3 separate regions of the Homo sapiens genome follow, and all the other regions are linked to region 2. The links come from fine-mapping of genetic effects on gene expression. A gene starts in region 2. Each other region holds a variant in brackets. All regions are shown on one strand. Distances are from middle to middle.

Evidence for each region. PIP is the estimated chance that this variant, and not a neighbour inherited with it, causes the effect. A credible set is the group of variants that fine-mapping cannot tell apart.
Region 1: its variant is the best candidate, but not a certain one, in a credible set for the expression of PDE2A-AS2 in whole blood (INTERVAL, PIP 0.71).
Region 3: its variant is the best candidate, but not a certain one, in a credible set for the expression of PDE2A-AS2 in whole blood (INTERVAL, PIP 0.50).

The regions. Positions count from the first base shown.
Region 1 is chr11:72,616,780-72,624,779 of GRCh38, forward strand. All of the region lies in intron 2 of PDE2A (phosphodiesterase 2A), which reads right to left. It overlaps LOC105369377 (a long non-coding RNA gene), which reads left to right. Exons shown (of 4, transcript XR_001748292.2): 4 at 2,165-2,410. It also overlaps the pseudogene RNU7-105P. Among named protein-coding and RNA genes, the nearest start is that of MIR139, 5.6 kb to the left of the region's middle. RefSeq lists an enhancer at 1,602-2,121. The variant C/G (reference allele first, on the strand shown) is at 4,366.
Region 2 is chr11:72,580,519-72,588,518 of GRCh38, forward strand. PDE2A-AS2 (PDE2A antisense RNA 2) reads left to right here and starts at 4,088. Exons shown (of 2, transcript XR_001748291.2): 1 at 4,088-4,538; 2 at 7,283-7,688. PDE2A (phosphodiesterase 2A) reads right to left here. Exons shown (of 31, transcript NM_002599.5): 14 at 5,552-5,663; 15 at 5,036-5,075; 16 at 4,853-4,916; 17 at 4,354-4,426; 18 at 4,033-4,210; 19 at 3,683-3,795; 20 at 2,920-2,997; 21 at 1,926-2,048; 22 at 1,359-1,429; 23 at 839-961; 24 at 368-455; 25 at 59-106. RefSeq lists enhancers at 3,771-4,294, 4,295-4,816 and silencers at 3,919-4,028, 5,259-5,358.
Region 3 is chr11:72,392,993-72,401,457 of GRCh38, forward strand. All of the region lies in intron 3 of CLPB (ClpB family mitochondrial disaggregase), which reads right to left. Among named protein-coding and RNA genes, the nearest start is that of CLPB, 37 kb to the right of the region's middle. The variant G/A (reference allele first, on the strand shown) is at 4,522.

The DNA of each region.
Region 1 (8,000 bases), 36 kb after region 2:
TCAGGATGGAGGGCTCTTCCCCAAGAGGAGCACTGTCACTATCACCTTCTTTCATGAGTGAGGACACCTCCTCCAGGAAGCCTTCCTGCGTGGTCACCTGTCCCCCTCCCAGGCCTTCTGAGAATTCCCAGGGACCAGGGGCTACAGGGCCTCAGGCCTCATGTAGTCCAATCCCAAGCTTGATGGGGTAGACTAAGGCCAGAGGAGGCAGGGAAGGATTCACCCAGGCTCTCATCTGGAGCCAGGAGACCCATGCTTCAGCCCAGCCCTTTGGGCCACACTAGGACACCTTGTCCCAGAGTCCTGCTTGTCTTTGGGGCCCCTCTAATACCTGCCTTGGCCAGGGGATGGGCTGAGCCCTCTCAGATGTCGGGTAAGGCTGAGTATCTGCCTCCAGGCCAGAGACTGGGTCTCTTATGTCCTCACTGTGCCCATTGTGTGTGGGAGGTAAATGCTGAAGGAGGCGGCCTGGCCTAGGGTTAGTGTGGGCCTGCAGAGGGCGGGGAGGAAGGGCCAGCCTGGGGTAGGGCTGGTGGGGTGGATGGCGGGAGGCAAGCCCAGCCATGCTGGTCTTCTTAGGGACAAGATAGAGAGCAGGGCACAGAGGCTGGCTGCCCGGTGATGCCTGCCCTGGGGCTCTCCCTGACTGTCCCAGCGTGTTTTCTCCCTGCCTCTCAGCCTCCCTGGGCGCTCTCTCTGTGCCTGGCCACCTCTCTCTGTCTGTGCTCTGCGGCATGTGTGTATCCCACAGCCTCCCGCTGCTTTGTCCTATGACTGTATTTGGCTCTCTCAACAGAGCTTGGCCCATCCCAGCTGTTCCCCAAACCCCAGGGGGAGGGGGAAAGTGGAAGTATGAGAAAGAGAGACAGGGACAGAACAAGTACCAATTCAGAAGCAGAGGGATAGACATAAGAGCCGGTAGGGAACCCCAGGGACAGGCGGAGGCTGGAGAGGCAGGGCTGGCTGGGGAAGCCCCTGAGGAGAAGTCCCTGAAGACCAAGGCAGAGTTGGGAGAAGAGCGGGGTCCACCCTCTTCCTCTGCACTGACTCCTGCCCCCTTTCCCTCTCTCTGCCCCTGCAGGAATGTGTGAGCACTTTTATTGTTCCTAAAAATAGCCTTTCTCTTTGGGGGGTTGGGATAAGCAATCTTCTGAGTGGGGTCCGTCTGGGGCACGCCTGCCCTCCGGGGTCCCAGCCACCATGCTCCCCAGGGCCGGGGTCTCTCAGCTCCTCTCTCCCAGCGCAGTGCTTTGTTAAACATAAATGTGACCCTGTCCCTCCCTTGCACAAGACTGTCATAGCTCCTGGGAACACCCCCTCCCCTCCTCCAGAGTGACAGGCTCCGAGCAAAGTGCTCAGCACACAGCCTGGAGCAGGGCTCGTGGTCACCTTACCTCATCAAGGAGCTGAGGGTGAGGAGCTGCTCGCTCCCTCCATCCAGGCACTGCCTGCTCTGGCCTCAGGCCTCTTCGCAGCGCCCCAGTCTGATTCCCTGCACCCCTCCAGCCTCCCCACTCCCAGCCTTTGCTCCTCCGTTTCCTGCACTGTGGTGTCCTCTCTTCTCTCCTGCTCTTCCTGCTCTGGCCCTCCAGAAACCCCCAGCCCTCTCCCCTGGTCTTGTCCTCCCCCTATCACTGGGACTCTCATCCTTCTCCCGTCCCCCTCACAGAGCAAGCAAGGGGCTGAGCCACAGGGCCCTGGGCAGGTGGGGCACCAAGGCACAGAGCCCTCCTCCAGTGAGGGAGAGAGTTGGCGGAGACATGGCAGGCTCTGGGGCCCCACGCACTCCCCTGAACCCAGACCTTCTTTGCCCCCCTTCATGTGCCCTCCCCAGCTTTGGTTGTCTTTTCTGGACCCCGGGCCTGAGTCTCTGTCTCTCTAATCAGTCTCCAGGAGAAAGCCCATCCAGTCTCATCTCCTTCCCACCTCCATTTTTCAGATGAGAGAGCCAAGCCCCAGAGAGGGGAGGCGATGGGCCTACGAGCCCATGGGACGCTGGCCATGGGCCTTGGTCACTCTGCCTCATTACACAGGGTCCCGGTCAGTGGGGCCACAGGGGCTGAGGCAGGCTGTCATACAGCCCACCTCCCAACATAAACAGCCCACCTCTCCACCCAGCCCGCCAGGCAGGCAGGCTGACATCCAGAGTTATTTTCCTTTGAAGGGCCCAGGAAGCCAGAGAACAAACATCCGGAGTCTCTGGAATCTCTCCTACTTTCCTTCCTCACATCCCGAGGATCTGGGAGCCAGCATGAGCATGCACACAGCGTGCGCACACACACACACACACACGCACACACTGGGCTGGGTAAATATGTCAGCCTGGGATATCTTGTGGGACTGTTGTGAATCTGTGGGTGCCTTAGAACCCCAAAGCCTTGAAAAGATGATGATGCCCTCCCACCAGACCCTCGGACCCTCTATACAATTCAAACTAAATTTTATCTTGGAAATGAAAATTAAAATAGTTTTTGTGTGGTTTTTCTGATTGCAAAATTCTGGATACACTCATCAGAACTGACCTCTCCTCTCACTCTGTGCAGAACTCCCGCTTTGCTGGGGACCTAAGCATGTGTGCAGCCTGCCCATTAATGGTCCATAGTGGCGAGCCCCTACGGACCATCACATCATCATGGCAGACTATGTTCCCTGGGTCACTGGGAGAATTTCCTTGTGAAAGTATGTAGGTCTGTGTCTCTGTAGGAATCTGTAACCCACATGGGTCGTGAGAGTGTAAACATGTGTGAGTACCCTGTGTCTATGTGTGTGCACTGGCCATCTGCACGTGGGAGTGACCATGTGGGCCTGCATCTATGCATATGTGATTCAGGTCATTGATGTCCATGTGACAGTGGTATAGTCAGTATGTGGCTGTCTGGGGTGCTGTGAATGCGCTGGTGGTTAGTCTTGTCTCCAAATGAGTGAGTGAACGTGTGGCTGAGAGTGGTGGAATCTGAGAGGGTCTAATTCTCCTCCTCTGCGCACCCCTGTCACTTCTCCCATCGCCTCCCTCAGATGCGGGCTCATCTGCCTGCCCTGCCACACACCACATGTACTGGACAAGTCTTTGGACCTTCCTGGGCTCAGTTCCTCATCCGTAAAATGGTCTCTTCCCCCAGAGCTGCTGAGAAGATTAAGCTGAGCCATCAAACCTTGCCTAAGCTGACTCCCAGCAGGGGGCTGGGGCCACCTGTGTGCACATTAGAAAGGAGGGACCCCAATTCTCTGGGCAGATGCGGGCCTGAGGGGAAAGGCTTGGTGAGGGAGAGTGGGCTCAGTTTCAGCACCACCCCACCTCTGCTGGAGCTCCTGTGCAAGGTATAGCCTGCACGGTTAAGAGACTTTGGCCTTGCAGGTGACCAAGAAAGGGCAGCTTCCTTTCTTCCTGCCCCACCTTCAGGTGTGCAGCCTGGAACTAGAGGGTCTCTGATTATAGGACTGGGGTAGACACATTCCAGATGAGACTCAGAGGACACTTACCCCTCCTCACTTCCCTGGGGCCCTGTGCTCTCCACCTACCCCTCAGTGCTCCCTCCCCAAGGCCCAGGAGAAGGCCCCTCAGAAGCCACAAGGGGGACTGACCAGAGCTGGGATGCAGAGCTAGGCCAACTGGGGCCTCTGAGACTCCCCAGTTCCACTCCCATTTTTGGAAAGGGAGACTGAGGCCCAGAGAGTAGCAGGGACCCTCCCAGGAACACAAGCGAACCCAGGAAGTCCAGACTCCTGTTTCAAGGCCTCTGTAGTTGGGTTTGAGAAGACCCAAGCTTTGGACTCTGTTGGCTCCTGAAAGGAGCCCAAGGAAGTGGGTAAAGGTCCCAAAAGACAGGCACTTTGACACCTGTGCCTCAGCTGCGGGTATGGACTCCTATCCACCCCCACCCTCCCGACCGGGACCAGATCCCCTACTGGTGTGATTAACCAAATTATGGGGCTTTTTCTTGAGCAAATTGCATTGGCCTAATTGGATGAGGCTGCAGGAGCCTGGGCTGGAGGCTGACAGTGGTAAGGACGGCAGGGGAGAGGAGGGGGCAGGAGTGAGTGGGCAGGAGGGGGTATCGCTGACAACACCAAGCAGGGGACAGAAGTTGGGGGAGAGGGAGAGAGGAGGGCTGTGGGTGTAAGAGGACACCTCACTCAGCGCACCTTCACTGTGCTCCTACTGGTGCTCCTGTTATTTGGGGACCTGGGGTGCAGGTGTTGAGGTTGCTGCTCCCCAAGAGACCATAGAGTATTTACCAAGTGCCAGAGACTGCATGCATTGGAGCACTGCTTCATGCAATCCTCCTAAGAGCTCCCATTTTATACTTGAGGAAATTGAGGCTCAAGAGATAAAATGACCTGCTGAATGTCAGAGCCTAGACAGGG[C/G]TGTCTGACACCACAGGCCCTGCTCTTAATCAGCACCTACAACATCCTGCTGAAGTGCCCACATCCTGCCTCCAGGAAGCCTTCCTGGGTATTCAGAGAAGGGAGGAGCTCGCATCTGGGCACAGACACCATTTCTGTTCCCATTCAGTGTTTCTCCTCATCTACCCTACAATGTCCATGCTCCCTCCCATACTCAGCAGCTGAAGCTGGGGCTGAGCCCACTTGAATCACATGCAGCCCGGTCACCTATAGCACAGCTTCAGTCCCTCTTACTCCCATGCAGAGTCCTGCACTGTGTCACACTCATCAACCAGGATGACACAAGAAGACATGACACCTGTGGCCTTCACACAGCAGGTCCCACCTGCTCGGTGACACACAGTCATTTCAGGGTCCACAGCGTCCCACTGTCCCATGTCACTGGGTGTCACAGGGCCACACACACAGTGATCTCTCACTGTCACCCTCACTTGGAGTCTCCCATATCTTCAGTGTTGCACCCATGTTCCCAAAGCCACCATGTCACCCTCACACAGCATCAGACACAGTTCCACACTGGCTCTGTGTCACTGTTACATTTCAGCATCATCCAGGACCTCCTAGCCTTAAAAAACAAAAATCCAAAGTCACATCTATTTTAGAATTTGTCTAGCAGGTTTTTCAGTCTTCACCGGAAAGCTCCCCCCACCAAAAAAAAAGTCTACCTTTGGTGAAATGACATCATGTCTGGGATTTGCTTTAACATATTTCAGCGAAGCAACCTATGAAATGGGAGAAAAATATTTGCAAAGCTTTTATCTGATAAAGAGGTAATATCTGGAATATATAAAGAACCCCTGCAATTCAATAACAACAAAAAAGCAAACAACCCAATGTTTTAAATGGGCAAAGGACTTGAATCAACATTTTCCCAAAGAAGATATACAAGTGGCCAACCAGCACATGAAAAGATGCTCAACTTCACTAATCATTAGGGAAATGCAAATCAAAACCACAATGAAATGTCACCCCACACCCATTAGGATGGCTACCATTAAAAAATAAAAGAAAAAAAAGAACAGAAAATAACACATGTTGGCAAGGATGTGGAGAAACTGAAACCCCTGTACACTGTCCGTGGGAATGTAAAAAGATACAGAAAACAGTATGGCAGTTCCTCAAAAACCAAAAAATAGAATGACTGTGTGATCCAGCAAGCGTACTTCTAGGTATACATCTGAAAGAATTGGAAGCAGGATCTTGAAGAGATATTTGTACACTTATGTTCATAGCAGCATTACTCACAATAGCTAAAATGTGAAAGCAACCCAAGTGTCTGGTGTTGGATGGATGTGGTCTGTCCATACACTGGAATATTATGTGGCCATAAAAAGGAAGGAAATCCTGTCACATGCTACAACATGGGTAAAACTTGAAGACGTTATGCTAAGTAAACTTAAAAACCAGTCACAAAAAGACAGATACTACATTATTCCAATTACTTGAGGTATCTAGAGTAGTCCAAGTCATAGAGACAGAAAGTAGAATGGTGGGTGCCAGGAGCTGGAGACAGAGGAGGATGGGGGCTGTCGTTTAATAGGTGCAGAGTTTCAGTTTGAGAAGATGAAAGAGTTCCAGAGATTGGTTGCAAAACAGTGTGAATGTACCTACCACAACTGAACTGTACACTTAGAAATGGTTATGATGGTAAAGTTTAAGTTATGTATATTTTACCACAATTTAAAAAATTTTAAGCTTAAGCAAAGGAAAATGAAAGAACAGATAGGGGGCAAGAGAGGAAGAAATGAGGCCAAATCCCAGCAACTGTTGAACTGGGGTGATGAGTATATGGCAGTTTCTTATATGCTTCTCTCTGGTATTGTGTCTGCTTAGAATCACCCATAATAAAAAAATGTAATCTCCCTTTCCAGCGATCATGTCCTTCTCTGCAGCCCTCACAGCCCAACGTCTCCAAAGGGCTCTCCAGGCTAACGTCTTCACCTCCCTCACCATCCTACACAGGCCAGTCTGACTTCTGGCTCCAGCCCATCACTGAAATGGCTCCCATTAGCCTGACTCACCCACAGTGCCCAGCACAGCACAATCTTCCGGTTCCCATCTTACCTGTGGGCCAGCACCATCCACACACCGACCCTCCCTCCCACTTGAGCCTCTTTCCTCCCTTGGCTTCTGGCTTCACACTCCTGGTCTCCTCTGCCTCCCTGGCCCTCCTCCTCTGTCTCGTTGCTGCTCCTTCTCACCTCCCCGGCCTCTAGACAATGGAATATTCAGAGTTTAAGGCTCGGTCCTCAGTCCCCACCTCTTCTGTTGCCAAGCTCCCTCTCTCCATTATCCCAGCCAGGTCCACGACCTTAACAAACCCCCCATGCCTGTCGACTCCCAGATGTATCCCTAGCCTGGCCCCGCTGCCCACTGCACACCTTCACCTGGATGCTTCCCTTAACACATCCAAAACAGCTCACTCGGTTTCTGCCTCCTTGTCCTCCCACCCCACTAGTGCTGACCCTCCCCCTTGCCTTTGCCCATCTCAGAAACATCTTCACCATCCATCGCTTGGTTCTTCAAGCCAGAACCCTGGAAATTGTTCTCTGGTTTTCCCTCTTGCTCATCTTCTCATTTATCAGCAAGTTCTGTCATTTCTGTTTTCAAATATCTCCAAAGTTGCTCCATATCTCTAACTCTTCTGCCATTCCATTAACACAGGCACCACCATCTCCTGCCTGGGCAGCTGCAGGAGCCTCCAGTTGCTCTACCCACCTTCTCTCTGCCTCCCCCTAACTTATCTCCCCTCCCCTGCCACGCACCATGCACACTCGCACACATACATATTCTGCAACCTGAGCAATCTTTTTCTTTTTTTTTTTTTGAGATGGTATTTCACTCGTCACCCAGGCTGGAGTGCAATGGCTCAATCTTGGCTCACTGCAACCTCTGCCCCCTGGGTTCAAGTGATTCTCCTGTCTCAACCTCCCGAGCAGCTGAGATTACAGGCGCCTGTCACCATGCCTGGCTAATTTTTGTATTTTTAGTAGAGATGGGGTTTCACCAGACTGGTCTTGAACTCCTGACCTCAGGTGATCCACCCAGCTCAGCCTCCCAAAGTGCTGGGATTATAGGTGTGAGCCACTGCATCTGGCCAGAGCAATCTTTTAAAACCATCCTTTGGACGGTGTTACTTTCCCGCCTGAACCCATCGGTGCCTTCCCATGACAGTGTCCTACACAGCACTGTATGTGCACATTGCATACTGTTACAACCATTACAGAGCATCACACATGTAATGTCAGGCCCAAGATCACACAGCATCACACGCCCACTTCCACACACTTGCTATCACTCCATGTCATGCCTTTGTTTACACACTCAGCCTCACTAGATCATATGCTTGGGACACACTCAATGTCACAATTCAGTGTCAGACACTCGAGCCACAGACTCAGGACCATACCTGCTACTGCAGCGTCATTTGCTCACGTTTCTGTATTTGATTCTCATGGAGACACACCCTCCATGTGCTCACTGTCACTTTCAGTGTCACACACGTGGTAGCATGCAATGTGCAATGTCACACACTCGGTGTCAGCATCACACAATCAATATCACACAGTGTTACACACTTGGTGGCACAGCCACTG
Region 2 (8,000 bases):
TTTGCAAGTCACTGGCCTTAAAGGGGAAGAAGGACGGGGTGGGACAGAAGAGTGATACCTCCATGACGGAGCCCTCAGAGCTGTAGAGCGCAGCCAGCACAGATTTCTGGAAAAGCCCAGGAAAACTGTGGTCACTCCTCACATCCGGATCCAAGTGCCACTGCTTTAGGCTGAGCAGTGTCCTGCCCTTCCACCTTTCTCCCCTCCTCCCTATCTCAGAGCCAGGGGCAAACCCTGGGGGAACCTCCTCCTGTGTCTAAACCTGGCTCCTGGTCTCACTCGCTCCCACCCATCTTCAGGCTGGGAGAGGATGAGACTCCCAGACACCCCATGGAGGGTCCCCACTGTGAGCAGGGCAGGGTCTTACCGAGGCCACCTGGAAAGAGTTGTTTGTGCCTCTGTGGTCCAGGTCATGACACATGCAGGAAATAAACAAGGCAAAGATCTCGATGTCCCTGGTTGAGAGGCAGAAAGGAGAAAAAAAAGAGGTCAGCCCACAGTTCCCTCCCTAAATCCCCAAGAGGACAGACAGGAGATGACATGCCCAGGAGCCACTGGGACAGGAGGTTGGAACACCTGGGTTCCCTTCCTGGAAAGAAGCACTGGTTTGGAGCCCAGCAGACCCGGGTTTAAATCAGGCTCAGTCTTCACTAGCTGCTTGGCTGTGAGCAAGCCCCTCCTGGAAGATGGGGCTCACAGCCTTCCCCTCTAGTCCCCTGGGGCTAAGAAGATCCCATGAGGCAGTGCGTGTAAAGTGCCTGACACACAGGGGGTGCTTCCCTGTCCCAGGGAGGGGACCCCAGTGGCTGCCAGATGTGGGGGAGATGCAGCCACTCACTCGAGGTAGTTGGTGAGCTCCAGGTTCTTGTAGAGCAGGTAGCAGAAGTGGGAGACAGAAAAGGCGTGCATCCAGTTGTGGTAGGGGGGATCCCGGTAGCCCTTCTTCACCATCAAACAGAACCTGGGGGAGGGAAGAGGGCAGAAGAGGGGCCTCAGCCTCTCCTCCTCCATCACGGCCCCATGATGGCAAACTACATGTCCCCTCCATCCCTGAGGGACCCTCCACAGCCTTCCTTGATGACTCTGTCTTAGCAGGAAGTTCCTATGCACATCTAACTTAAACCTCTGGCTACACACTCTCGGCCTTGCCTCCAGGCTTTGCCTTGCCTCATTTCTTGCCTTTATTGACAGTTCAGTGTCTAGGAATTGCTTCTCATTCATGGATCCTCCCCACCCCCATAAGACTGGGTCTCCCCAGTCATCCTTAGAGAGATCCTCTCCAGAATGCCGGGGGCAACGGATGTGACAGTAGAGGAAAGAGGGAGGCGAAGACTGGGGCTGTCTGTGGGCGCACGAACCGGGCCAGGGTCGGGCAGTCAATTTTGTAGTTGTTGATGAAATTCATGTCCTGCAGCATGCTCAGGATGGCCTGGAGAGGGCAGAGGGAGGTATCAGAGGGGCTGCCAGTATCAAGACGGGGCCCTTGCCTGGGTCCTTCTTCAAGCTCCACACTCAAAATCTGGAGTCTTAGAAACTTACATCTAAACTAGAGAACCACAAAATAGTTGAAGCAACCGTTCTCGGAGCTATGCATTTTTAGAGATCTAAGAACTAAGAACTCTTGAAACCAAGCCCACACAAAATGTTAGAAAAACAGGGTTGGGAGGGATGCAAACCCTGAGGTCACATGCCCTGGGCATGGTTGGTCCAAGAGCAGCCCTTGGGATCATCCAGTCCAGCCTCTAGCCCCTGGGCAGGCCCTATGGCTTCCTGATGGCAGACTACAAGCCCCTCCATCTCTGAGGGACCCTCCACAGCCTTCCTTGATGACTCTGTCTTCCCAGGAAGTTCTTGATGCGCATTTAACTTAAGCCTCTGGCTACATACCTTCGGCCTGGCCAGTCAAGTGGAGGAGAGCAACTCACCATGGACGTGTCATCCTCGGGCAGGGAACGAGGGGTATAGGTGAAACTTGCAAAATTGGAGTCAATGGCAGCCACAGGCTGGATCCCATCATGGAGAAGTTTGGTATACTCATCATCGGAGACCTAGAGGAGACCAGCCAGAGCATTAGAAGACAGCCTTCACCCCATCTGGTGTCTTCACCCTCAAATTCCCATGGCAGGTGGGGGATCCGTCACCCAGAATGTACCACAGTTGGGCCACCACGCTGTGGACTGTAACTGGGCAGGAAATCACCACCCTCCCCTCACAGCCCTGCAGCCCACCCCGCGCGCCTCCCTGCAGGTGACCACCCTTTATCTGTAACAGCATAACCTTGGCAAAGATCGACAACACCCCTTCATGACACCCCCTAACCATGGCAGCATTTCATACACAGTAACTGTAGCAGTCCTCCTTTTGTGGAGACCTTTCTACTCTCTAACCTTAACTCTTCCTACTACAGTTTTGATCCAACTCACAAGGTCTGGGCCTCTCTGGTTTGGACACAGGTGAGAGGAAATGTCCAAATGAACAGCGACTACCATATACATGGAACTAAGCCAGCTTTTGTGACCCAGGGTAGGGAATGGGATAGATTATCAGCAATTAAGACTGCCCAGGGCTGCATGGGCATTGTACCTAGGGAAGCCATGGGGACGGGTCCTGGGTGAGCTTCCTAGCCCTCAGTAATTCCCAAGATGGGAATTATTCCCTGAACATGGGGAATACCTGGCTGAACCAATTACTCCCTGGGCTGGTTCCTCTGGCTACTTCCAGCCTTGGGACTGAGCTCAGAAGCAGCTTGGAGGAGAGGTCTCTAAGCAGGGGTGGGAGCTGCCCCTAAGGAGGGCAGGAGGCCTGCTGTGGCTCTGGGCCTATCCTCTCATCCTCAGTAGAGATTGATCAGGAAGCCCTGCCTGGCCCTGGGTCCCCGGGGAATCTGGGAGGAGGACCAGAGGTCTCTGCAAGCCTCACCTTCATGTGGTACATCATCATCTCATTGGCCAGGTGGCTGCGATACTGAGCCTCATTCACTTTTTTGTATAGGAGAGACTAGGGGAAAGAGGGAAAGATGGGGCTCAAGGAAGGTGGCTGTGAAAATTTAGCAATGCCCAGGACTGGGATGAAGGGGTCAAAAAGACACCCCACTTCCTGTCCCATTCTGGCCCCAGTCAAAACCTTCAAGCTCCAGTCCACAGTAAAGACCCCACCCCCACTTTCATCCAGACCCCGCGCCGGTTCCTCCTCATCAAGTTCTCCCAGCATTTGGTCTGGCCCTTTGCACTCCCCCACACCTGATCCAGGCTTCAGTGATGGAGCCCAAGGCCCATGGCAGGGAAGGAGAAGCAAGGAGGGGATCATGTCAGGGACCTTGGGGCTGGATTCCCAGGCCAGAGCGCCAGTAGGCCTGGACACCGAGACCCAGCACTTCCAAAAAAGCACTCGGCTTGGGTTGAGACTGCTTCCAGGGAAGAGAGGAGGTTTTGACAACGGGAGTTTCTCATGGTCCCAGGAGGCTGAGTGGACAGGGCAGGAAATCGTATGCCCAATTTTTAGATGGGAAACTGAGCCCAGAGGTGGCCAGCGTGTCCTGAAGGCTGCACCCCAGCGGCGGGACTCTGAGTGCCAGACCAAGGGATCAATCCACAAGGAGAGTCAGTCGGAGGAGGAGAACCGAGGGTCCTTCGTGGGCCCCGCCCCCTATCACCCCACACCCCACTCCCAACCCCGCCCTCACATGGGCGATGCTGATGCCGCAGTAGATGGAGAAGGCCGTCGCCAGGTCCTCGTCGAACTTGCTGAACCATGGCCCATTGATCTTGTTCACCAGCTCGGCCACACCGATGACCTCTGGGGAAGGGAGAGGGGCAAGGAACCACCGGTGGAGGGAGGGATCGGTTGGAGGGAGGGATCCGGCCGGGACCTGCCCTCGCAGTTTCCGCAGGTTACGTACGTCCCAGGCATGGAACCCGACTCCCTTATGCTCCGGGACGCTGGAGGCGGTGGGGAAGTGTTGCCACCCCCGCTCGCTCGGACCCGCCCCGCCCGGCGCAGGCCCCGCCCCTCCGCCCGGGCCGCCACGCGCACCCTGGTTCTCGTTCTTGATGGGGAAGCAGAGGATGTTGCGCGTGCGGAAGCCGGTGCTGTCGTCCACGCCGCGGTAGAAAAGCGGATGGGCATATGCGTCAGGGATGTTCAGGATCTGGCCCGTGGTCGCCACGTGTCCCGCGATGCCCTGATCGGCCGGGATGCGGATCTCATAGCTCTGCCGGAGCAGAGATGGAGTCGAGAGGAAGAAGTTAGTGACCCGGCCACAGAGGGGACTGTTAAACCTCGGGCCGCTCCCCAGCGCCGCCGGCGGACTCCCGGACACCCCTAGGGCCACATACTCCCTCCACACCCTCTCACCTCATCATCCACCACGCCCCCGTCGAACACCTTGGCCACCAGCTCATTCTGATCCAGCAGGAACACAGAGCAGCTGTGGAGGGAGGGGTTTGGTCCTCTGGGGCCTGACAACCCCCTCTGATCGCCCTCACGTCCCATAAGGAGGCAAAGGCCGGATTTCCGAGGCCTGGGAGGAGTGCTCCAAGGTAAGACACTCTGCTCAGGGCTGGCTGGCTCCAGAAACGTGTCCATTCAAGTGTTTTGTTTTTTTTTTTTTTTGGAAGCACCTACTATGTGCCAGGCACTGTGATAGGAGCTGAGGATCCAAAGCCAGCCCTGTCCCTGCTGTATTGGAGCCTACAGTCTAGCGAGGGAGACAGGCATGAAATAAAGGATCCCTCAAAAGGTGATGAAGTCCCGCAGAAGGCAGAGAAAGGGAAGTGGGTGGGGCAGGAAAGGAGATGATGGGGACTGAAGGCCACAGCCTCTCTCGCCCTGTCCCCTGGGTAGAGTCACTCACATCTCTGCGTTGCTGAGGTTTCTGGCCTCCGTGATGATCTCCTGGAGCAGGACAGAGACGTCATCTGGGGAAGGGAGAAGACCAGGCAGGGTGAGACCAGGCTGCCAAGACCTCCCGCCTCTCCTCTGCAAATGCCAGCCCCCATGCCCACACACAGCCAGGCAGAGAGAACAGTGCACTCACCCAGGTGGGTGAAGAGGTTCTTTGCCACTTGGAGAAGAGCCTGGAATGAAGGAAATGGAGATCATAGGGGGGTCGGGGTGTAGGGGTCACCCTATCCAACCTCCTGCCTCCAACAGCACCCGGGTCTTCTCCTTCCTTCCCTAGGGCTCACTGGACAAGCCAGAAACTGTCAGTGTCTAATTATATCATTTGGCTACTAAGTGAAGGAGTGAGGGAATAGCCCCGGTGCAGGTGAGGAGTCTCCTGAGTGTCTCAGCCGCCTTCACGCCAGCTCTAGCTGCCTAGGTGTTGCTGTAGTGCCCAAATTGAACACTAGAGGGCGATCACATACAGTGCCTGCGGGCAGTGGCGCGGGTCCTGAACAACTGCAAGCCTTCAAGTTATGAGGTTATGGAGCCACCTGGGGAAGGGCTGCCACCAGTCCAGAAAGACATGGGCATTTCCCTTCTGAATGGCTCTCGGGGCTGAAAACTGAGCGAGTCGGTGCCCGAGAGAGGCTGAAGGCAGGTCACTCACCTGGCACTCACACTTGAGTTTCTGTTCCTTCTGGAAGGCCAGGGTGCTGGTGAGCACGGTGCTGGTGTAGTGGAAGCAGTGCTGGATCACATGCTCGTCCTCGTCGGTGAACCTGGAGGAGGGGGTGGGCTCACTCAGGAGGGAAGGGAAGACTGGCTTCTCTCCCCACTCTCCTTACTTCTGTTCCATCAGAAGCCCACAGGGGTACCCACCTGCCAACTATATAACCACTGCACAGGCCCTTGGAACAGCTTCCCACCCCCATGACCCTGCAGACTGGGGGCTGCCCAAGGGGAGGGCTCCAGTCCTCCTTAGATGCTTGAAACCAGAGCCATACCTCCCGTCTCTGATTTGGGATTTACCCAGCCCAAAGCTGGGTCTCCTCCCTCAGACTAGAGATTGCCTGGGCTCAAGCTGGTGTTCTGCTCTTCCCCAGGCACACCTCCAGCCTTGGGGAGGGGCGGTGGCACTGCCCTATCTTGTGCAGCTCCTGTCACTACCCCACTCTCCCTGGACTCCGCTGGCCCTGATTCGGTGCCTCCAGAAATCTTAGGGTGGTGGTGTGGAGAGGACTGCTTGCCCTGCTCATGGAGCTAGCTCTGGTGAGACAAGATAAGCCCCAAATCCTGCTCACGTCATTCAATCTGGCCACCAAATGATTTGTCACTGGGGAGCTGCATGGGGCTGGGTGGACCAATGGTGTGGGTCATGGGAAGAGCCTGCCTTAGCCCACATCACGCTGCCCTGAGGTGTCCCTGCCTAAGCCCTTCCCCACTTTTTGGCTGGCCTTGGTGCTCCACCCTGGTGGGGCATCCCCCATTCATGCTTGCCATCCAGTGATTCGGATCTAGATCCCATCCCCACCATCCTGGGTCTGTCTGCACACCTTTCTTACATTTGTGGTCCCTCAGCTAGCCCCACCCACCTGTCACCCCTCAACCCAGAACATCTCTCAGCTTCAGCCACACAAAGATCCTCATCATTCTGAGAAAACCTTGGGCTCTTTCACACCTTCATGCTTTTTTTTCTACACTGTTCCCTCGGCCTAGAATACCCTTCTCACTCTCTTCCCTCTATGCCCTGAAAATGAGCTTCGAGTCTTATGAAATGGGGCCATGACTATATCACCCATGCCCAGTGCAGAGCCTGGTACAGAGGAAACACTTCGGAGGTCTTTGCTAATGTCGTCAGTGTATCCTATCCCTGGCCTTGCCACCAGCCCCATCCCACTCACAGCTGAAGGGCTTCTGGAGCCCCTGTTCTCTGGCTACTTAGCTGTGTTTCAGGAAGCTTCTCTGTAGTCACTGCACTGAGCTGAGCCCCACCCTGGCTCATGCAGTCATTCAACACTCACTCCCTGAAATGCGTGGGACACAGAGATAGCCCTGCCCCTGCCCTGGGCCTCAAAGCTGCCACCAAGGCCCCATCCTTATTTCCTGCTGATACCACCTCTTCTCCAGCTCTGGGGCCATCCTAGAACCCAATCTCACAGCCAGCAGCAAGAAGTCATGGCCCCTGCTGGACCCCCATTCACTCTACCTTCCCTTCCCCAAAGGCCTTCCCAAGGCCATCTGGTCAGCACTGGGATGGCAACATTAAGTGCTCAATATTTGTTTGCTGAATGGCATAAATTCTCCCACCATTAGGATGCCCACAAGTTCCAAATGCCACCAATCCCACATTCTCCCTGCCTCAGCTGATTCTGCCTTGCCCCTATCTTTGTTTCTCCAGGCCCACCCAACTGTCAACACAGTTCCATGCTGGTAGGTTCTGCAGCTCAGACCTAGGACTCCTGGATCTCCACCCTACCCCAGCAGACCTCAGGCCCGGGCTCTGACACCTACCTAGTCCCAGGCTCTCTAGTGTCCACCTCCTGCAGGAGCTCCAGGCCCTGAAACCCAGCCTGTTTGCTTGGACTCCAGAGACCAGCATCCTATCAGCATCTCTTTGCATCAGGACTCAGCCCCTCATCTGTCTACTTCTCCCCACCTATGTGACACAGCACAAACTGCTCATCCTGCCAGCCCAAGTGTGAACCTGCACCCAGGACAGAAATGGCTCATCAGACGCAGCACTGTTTCTCCCTGAACTAAGATCCATTTGCAATAAAATTCAGGCACCTACTGCCTGTTTATGAGTTGGTGTAGGATATGAAATTTATTTATGACACCATTTCTAGACCCCAGGTTTGTCCTCAGTTCTCGAGATATCCTTTCCAACTAAGCCTCCAAGCCTGCTTTCCTGTCCACTGTGCCCTGCCCACAAAAAAAGAGATTTTTGTGTATCATTTTTATAGCTGCCCTGTCAGGGGCTCAAAAGATCCACAGCTTTTCCCAGTCCCCAAGCATATTCCCTTTAGCCACTGTCCACTGTGTTGATGATGCTTTGTGGGTCCCAGAGGGTTCATCCAACCCAGAGCACACCCACCCCTCCATCTAGCAGTTTATAG
Region 3 (8,465 bases), 190 kb before region 2:
AAGAAGGAGTCTGTTTGAGATAGACAAGGGTAAAAATCAGTGGTGAACCCAGACAGAGGTGATATAATTAGGGGCAAGGCTCGAGGAAGGCATGGCACGTTAAGCTGATGGCCAAGGAATCAAGATCACCCACAACAGGGTTTCCAAGATAATCCCAATTTCACATCCTCAGCGTAGTTCTAAATACACTTCCATGTCTTTCAATTTGTGGTTCATAATATATGGTCACCAAACCTAAGGCCAGTGTAGTCAGGCCCTAGATGTTAGGACTTATTACAGTATGGACCCAGACTAGGCTCTCTCTAGGCAAATGATCCAGAACAGTATGATGGGGCTGGCATATCTCTTAGACTCGGGTGAAAATAACAACAAAAAGAAAAAACAATATTAATAACAGCAGCAGATACCTACTTATTCACTACACTAAGTAGTTTTATGTGCATTTTAATCTTTGCAACCACCTTATGCTGAGGTAGGTGCCATTATTATTCCCATTTTGCAGATGGGTAAACTAAAAACCATAAGAGGCACAGCAAGGTCTTCAACACAGGCAGCTTCACTCCAGAGCCCCTATTCTTCACTACCATAGTATACATAAGTAGACTGGATGCTCCCCAAAGCAGGGACTGTGCCTTGACTATTTCCATCTCCACACACATAGGGCCTATACAGGGCAGTAAATATTTGCTGAATCAATTCACTTCTGGGGCCTGATGTTGCACAGCAGACAACATATTGGGTTTTTAGTCAGCTTCTAGACTTTACTTTTAGTATTGCTAAGTTTTGCACGTTGGGTTTTACAGTTGGTTTTTAATTGTTGACCCATATACTTATCCTTGTTAGTTTTTATCAACACAGATTTAACCATTGCTCTAGCCCACTGAGGTTTTATTTAATGTCCCCTATTTTTTCACCCAATATATTAGTACCTCCTCAAGCTTCATTAACTCTGTTGGCATTTATCAATGACCTCAATGAAATCAGTGATATAAAATACTGAACAGGACAGAGCCCCATTGCTCACCACTCAAGCCTGCTCTCTAGTCTGATGTCCATTCATACATAAACAATGAACCAGGTCATTTACATTTACTAGTCTGACTATACTATTTTTACATCATAATTTTACTCATATAGATGTCATTAGAGACATCCAAATATCTTACTAAAAGCCTGAAACACCCATGATATCTACTGCCGACCCCTGGCCCACCAGCCTGGCAGCTCTGTTAAAATAAGCAGCTTATGGTACAGCTGTTTTTAAAGAAGTCTCTTAAAGAAGAGGTATAGAACTAGACCATCTCACAGTTCCTAGAGATGGAACACCCTGCCCCAAGCAGCTGAACTGAATGAACACTGGATGCTTTCCTATCCCCAACTGCCACTCTCCATAATGAACACTGGATGCTCTCCTATCCCCAACTGCCACTCTCCATAATGAACACTGGATGCTCTCCTATCCCCAACTGCCACTCTCCATGAAGACAGCACTGAACACAGAACCCCAGGACAGAACAGAGCATTGGGCCCAGGAAGTATACCCTGAGACTGTCACGTTAGGCAAATGAGCTGGCACTGATTTCCAGGGAGCAGCGTCTTGAGTTGCCTGAGGTTGAGGCATGTGTCTGCCAAACTACGAGTGCATGCTGGAATTGGAATATCATTACCACAAAACAGGATTATCTTGAGCAACGATTCCAAATGGGATTAGAAATGACTCTTTCTTACTCAGAGATAATCGGCCATAGCAGTAGGGGTGGGAGAAACGTCAAGCCCAACACTTTCCTGGGGGCACGGTGCTGCGGTGCTGGCATTCTGGGCACTTGGCCAGCACCCTCACCCATCCTTCCTTGCTGGGGAATACTGGGTACTGTCCTGCACTGGGCAGGTGGCCACCTGTAACAAAAGCCAGCCTATATCAAGGTACCCTGCTCAGGGGTCCCATGTTCTTGGGTTCCCTGCCGGTTGCTTCTACGAGCACATCTCTGCTTTCCACCTTTGTGAGCCTATGCTCACAATGGTCCTTCTGCAAATGCTCTCCCCCTACTCCCTATGTTACCAATCAAATCCTGCCCAACTCCTCTGAAAGGGCCTCTTTTCATGATGCTGGCTCTACACAGCATCATCTCCTCCACAGCACTCTATGTGTTCTTCTCTGTGGCACTGAACACATTCTGCCTCATTCTCCAAAGCGGGACTTTTATCCCTTTTCTGAGTGTCAGCTTTCTGAGAACAAGGAGAGTGGCTTGTCTGTTTTTACAGTTCTCAAAATCCATATAATACATCATGGGTCATCAAGAAACCCTGATAGAGCCGACTTGACTCCTGGTTCCAGCATCCTTCGGTCCATCCCATGGCCTTGCTCCCGGCCCCTTCCCTCCATAGGCAGTGTAGTCCAGTGGAAAGAGCAAGGGTTTGGGGTTCAGAAAGACCCAGCTTCAAATCCTGGCTCCTTCTTTTACTAGCTGGACAACCTTGGACAACTCTGAGCTTCATTTTCCCTATCTGTAAAATAGGAATAATAATCCCTTCCTTTCAAGATTGCCCTGAGGATTAGACCCAACATGGGAAGTGCTTGACATGGGCCTGGCACACAGAAAGCACCCAATCAACTACTGCCATCATCATTACTACAGTCAGGAGATCACACAGCACAAAGCCCAGCCTCCTTGGGCAGAAGGTAGCCCTACTCTACAGCACGAAGCCAGACCAAGAATAGGTTAGAAGACGGAAAAGGCTCTGTGCCCCTAAGGCAGGACCGACTTCCATGTGGTTGGTCAGGTTCCCTAAGGACCTACTTTCAAGCACAGGTACACTGGTACTCTACCTGCTCCACGTATAGCTAGCCAGGAAGGAAGCAGAGCCTCCCAGGGAGGCTGCCAGTAGTCTAGCTGCAAGATTAGCATCTGCTCTTCGCTCTAAGAACACCCATGGAGCTGTTGGGGTCCACAAAGGAAGGCCTTTAAAACCTCTTCTGTAGGACAGCAATCTGGCTTAGGCTATCGGTTTTTTAAAGAAAGGGTTTAATGCACCCTCTCCCCTTAGTAAGGCAGAGGGAAAATAAGCAAATGCTAAAAATAAATGACTGCTGTGAGAGGGAATTGAATGGTCTTCAGCCAAGGATGGCAGCACTTTAAAATTAACAAAGCCCGGGTACCACATCCAGGAAGGCCTTGGCAAATGCGTGTTATCCACTCATTAGCTCAGTTCCTCGGGGACCCTGGCCAAGCAGGGAAGGCAGTGCCGGGAACCAGTCCTTCCGACACTGATGAAATGCACTCGGGGAGAAAAGGCAGAAGGAGGGAGGGAGACTCTTGTGGGGAATTTCAAACAGTTCTGATGTGCTTCATGCTCTGCCTTGCAGTTCTCACCTTCTCCGAGGCAAAGGCTTGCAAAAGCCACCACCAAGCCCAAGCAGGATGAAATCAAAATCTCCCCACACCAGCCTCCCTTTTCAGGATCTTTGGTTCCTGAAGCACCACAACGGCCTCACTATATAGGTGGTGTCCCTGCATGAGAGTCCAGAGATAAGGAACCCAAGAATAGTGTGGGAGAGGCAAGCTCCCAGTCTGTAACCTCAACTTTCTCCTTGCTGGAATGAAGAATCATATACTTTATGAATTTATACAAGTCCACTGTACACTACTCATAAAGTGAATTTATCACTATTCATCAGTAATTATACTTCATTACATCACTGATAGTATGAATTGACAAATCTTCATTCCCTACTAAAAATCAGAATGCATATCACTCTAATGTGAGATATCATCAACAATAAGAATTCAAAACATTCCAGGTGACCATTAACAATATGAATTAATTTTGATACTACTAATACAAATTCTCAGTATGCCACTGGTCACAATTAATAATGAAAATTAGAGAGGGATGACAGCTTTTTAAAAAGTGTTTAAAGTCAGTTTACTGAAGTATCACATTTACACAGAGTAAAATTCATCCTTTTTAAGATATATAATTTAATGAATTTTGATAATTATATACATTCATGTAACCAGCATGATAATCAGGATACAGAATATTTCTCCATCATCCCAAAAAGTTCCTTTATATTCTCTTCCCATTCCCAAACACTGGCAACCACCAATCTGATTTCTGCCCCTAAAGTTCTGTCTTCTCCAGAATGTCATATACATGGAATTACAGAGCAGGTAGCTTTTTGTGTTGGTTTTAGCTTAGCATGGTGCTTTTGTTGTTGTCATTGTTTGTTTGGCTGTTTTTACCGTATGGATATACCACAATTTGTTGGTCCATTCACCAGTTGATGGACATTGCATTATATCCAGTTTTTGGTGGTCATGAATAAAGCTGCTATAAATATTTACATACAGGTATTTTTGCAGACGTACATTTTTATTTCTCTTAGACAAATACCTAGGAGTTGCTATTGCTCTGTGGTATGGTAAATGTATACTTTACCTTTATAAGAAACTGCCAAAGTGTTTTCCAATGTGGCTATACCATTATGCATTCCTATCAGTGATGTATCAATATTGTTCT[G/A]TATCCTTGTCAGCCCTTAGTATTGTCAGTTTTCCTAAATTTTAGCTACTGTAGCAGGTATGTAGTGGTATCTCATTGTGACTTGAATTTGCACTGAGTATGTTTTCATGTGCTTATTTGCCACCCATCTCTTTTTCGATGAAGCATCTGCTAAAATATTTTGCCCATTTAAAAAAATTAGATTTTTTTTATTATTGATTTGTAAGACTTCTTTATATGTTCTGGGTACTACTGCTTTATAAGATACATGTTTTTACAGCTCCTTTTTTATGAATTAGAAATTATAAGAATCTAAGTCTTACAATTTTTCTTCTAAACCACTATCCTCTGCACATATACTCTAATTAAGGGACTAGGAACAACTTAAACTTCTAATTTACAAACATCTTAGTGCTGCTGGAACAGAGGGCCAAGAAGTACTTAAACCGTGCTAAAACTCATGAGACTATTTTTATCTCCATTGCAAGCACCTAACAATACCAGAGCTTTAAGGAAAGCTACATCTGGAGAAATGACTGTCCTATGAACAGCTTTTGGCCCCCCAGGCTCTGCACCTCCCAAAGCCCTGTTCTGGTCCACCAGACTTCTGGAATGGTCAACAGTCGTCACACTCCATTGCTGGCCATTGTTCACTGGGAAAGGTAGGAGGCTCCCAATCCATCCCTCAGTGGAAGAGCAAATAGTGGGGCCTGTGGCTGCTTGGACATCAAAGTTGAGCAAACAGGCCTGGCAGGCCCTGCCTCTCCGCCTACACATCCTGCAAATGCCATCTGAAGGAGCTTCCCCAAGGGGGTCATGACTTTCAGCCTGTCATAGAACACATCAAAGTTTGCACCACACACGAACTGGGTGCATGGGTTCGAATCAAGTCGCCCGAGAGCGGATACTCAGCCATTGTGTCCAGTTTTAATCCTGTGTTTTCCCAAGTAATTAAGCCTTCTTGCTTATGAACTTGTGACTAAGTAAAGCATCACCGAGAGGTTGTAACATCAAAGTGCCTTCCACCGTCTGTCCGTGTTTGGTAAAATTGGATTTCTTTTCCTTCTTAAAGAAAAACTAATTGAATTTAGCTGAAGGCTGTGTATATTTGCACAAGCCGGTGAAGGCTACGCTAAGTCACAGTGATCATTCTGGGACCCTGTGGCTTAGCCTTTAGCTGGACTGGGTCAGAGTGCAATATAGAATGAGACACCCAGACTCAGGCTAAACAAGTGCCTTGTGGCATGAGGCTTATAGAGGGCTAACTGTGGAGAAGGGGCCAGACCCCAATGACTGTTCCTTGAGTCAATACTATACCCAAGCTGTTACTAGGGCTGGCAAAAGGATTGTCCTAGTAGAATGTTGGTAAAGCTTTGGCAGCACGGCTACTGAAGACAATGGCCATCACATTACTCAAGTCCTGGATGTCGGCAGTCCAAGTAAGCTTCTTAAGGCAAAAGCTGTGACTGCTTATTCTCTGAATCCCTGATAGCCTAGCACATTAGCACCTGACACCACAGAGTTTTTAAATATGTTTGCTGAATATACATAATGATAATATATATTTTATATATATAAAACCATAAATATATATAATACATAAAGATATAACTCTCTGTATCCCTTTTTTGCCCTATCAGGAAACTTCAATCTAAATTAATACTCAATTTCCCTAATTACTTAATTTACAGTAAATACAGCATGGTCCCATTCATGTTAAATTTGTACATAAACATATATATAACAATCAATTTCCAGATAAAGGGAATTCAGGTGACTACTATTTTATGTATGATTTTTACAAAAACAATAAATCTATTTTCAGAAAAGAGAATCTCTGGTTCAATCTTTATACAATTATCTTTCCTTTAACCAATATGATTTCTGATCTTGATCCAGTTTTCCCTCTCCTGTGTATATTTATATTTGTATTTTAAGTCACTTCAAACTCTTTTTGGAAATAAAAGGAGAAAATAAATTATAAATTAAATTATTGTGCATATTTTTAAAGTGTAGTTCTATAGCACTGTTATTTCCTATTCAAAACCAAATAAAATGTACATACAGACCTAGAAATTCATAAGACATTAAGCTCCTTAAGGACAGAGACTATTGTATTCTATATCCCTAAAGACTTAACATATTATTAAGCAGCATCAGGGTGAAATGATTGGGCTACTCCGAGGATCTCTCTCTTGAGCTTGTGGCTGCCTACATCCTAAAGGAGGTGAAGGAGGTGAAGGTTCTCTGCTTTCAGCCTTGAATCAAGGGTGCTCCCCCTCTATCTTCCCTTCATCGAAATCTAATTCAAAGGTGGTAGCATTTCAGGCCTGACCAATATGATTCTGGAAGGATTTGGAGATTGATTATATGAAAATCAGTATATTTCTAATAAGGAAAAACTTATTGGCAGATTGTGCTGGTATGGATATGCTAATCCTCCAAGACTACTCACAGGGCACCTTAACAATGAGGCCTACTCACCCTGACCAATGTACTCCTGGTACTCCCTTTTTAACAAGTTCTACTTTTCCTTTTTCCCACGGCACTTATCTTCTAATATATTAAATAGTTTACGCATCCATTATACTCATTGTTTATTGTCTATCCACATCTTTCTCTACCAAAGGACCACAACTAATACAGAAATAAGCTCTATGTGGGCAGGGATCTTTGTTTTTCATCAACATTATTTCAAGTACATAGAACAGTACCTGGCAAACAGTAGGGGCCAAAAAAAAATTCTGCGATATGAATACATAAATCCAACCCAAGAGTGTGCTATTTTCAGTAAAAATCTGTCCTCCCTGGATAGTGGAAGAGAAGGTCACAAAATGGATAATTAGTCCTAGGAACCAAAGCAAGTAAATATAAGCCAACACTCTCACTTTGCTCAACAAGCATCACTGATTTGCTAACAGCTCTGGATAAAGACAGAGCAATCAGTTAAGCCAACAACTCATTAGATTCAAAGAGATGTGTCCCCAAAAGCATATCTACTAGCCATCTGATCACTAATTGACAGTATTTTTAAGCATCGTGTTGTTTCCTATTCAGTCTCAACCTTGAAAATACTACACACAGAAGGGAACACACCTCTCCACCTCTCCTTCTTTAGCACCACTGGCTATTTCTTGCAGAGGGAAACAGCTACAAGCTGGGGGAAAAGACTGGTGCATGTGGTGAAGTACCAGCGGTGTAGAATAACACATGTGTTTGTGTACAGAGATCTAATGGGGGCATCAGGGACTAACAACCCACCTTTATAACCTGTAGCACATACATTACCTTATTTGATTCTCCAAAGAATATGGTGAGGATCTACTATGCTGCCACATTGAGTCCCCTCACACCCTTTGCTTCGAGGGTATCCCATACATACTGCTCTGAAATCACTGATCATACTATACTATGTCTCCTTACCTGCATTTGTTTTCCCCATTAGACTGCAAACTCCCCAAGGTCTCGGATTCTGCAAACACTAGCACAGGGCCTGGCTCAAGGCAGATATTTACCTAATGTTCATAGAAATAATTAATTTCTGATGAAGAAACAGGCTGTCCATGGAGTTCTGAAATTCAGTTAAGGCTTGGAACCAGGACTGGACTCTAGGTCTCTCAACTACGAAGCCTATTTATATCAATTTTGCTTTTAAAGAATAGGTGCGCCAGACATGGTGGCTCACGCCTGTAATCCCAGCACTTTGGGAGGCCAAGGCGGGTGGATCACAAGGTCAGGAGATCGATACCATTCTGGCCAACATGGTGAAACCCCATCTCTACTAAAAATACAAAAAAAATTAGCTGGGTGTGGTGGTGTGCGCCTGTAGTCCCAGCTACTCGGGAGGCTGAGGCAGTGGAATTGCTTGAACCTGGGAGGTGGAGGGTTGCAGTGATCCAAGATCGCGCCACTGCACTCCAGCCTGGCAACAGAGTGAGACTCCGTCTCAAAAAAATAAATAAATA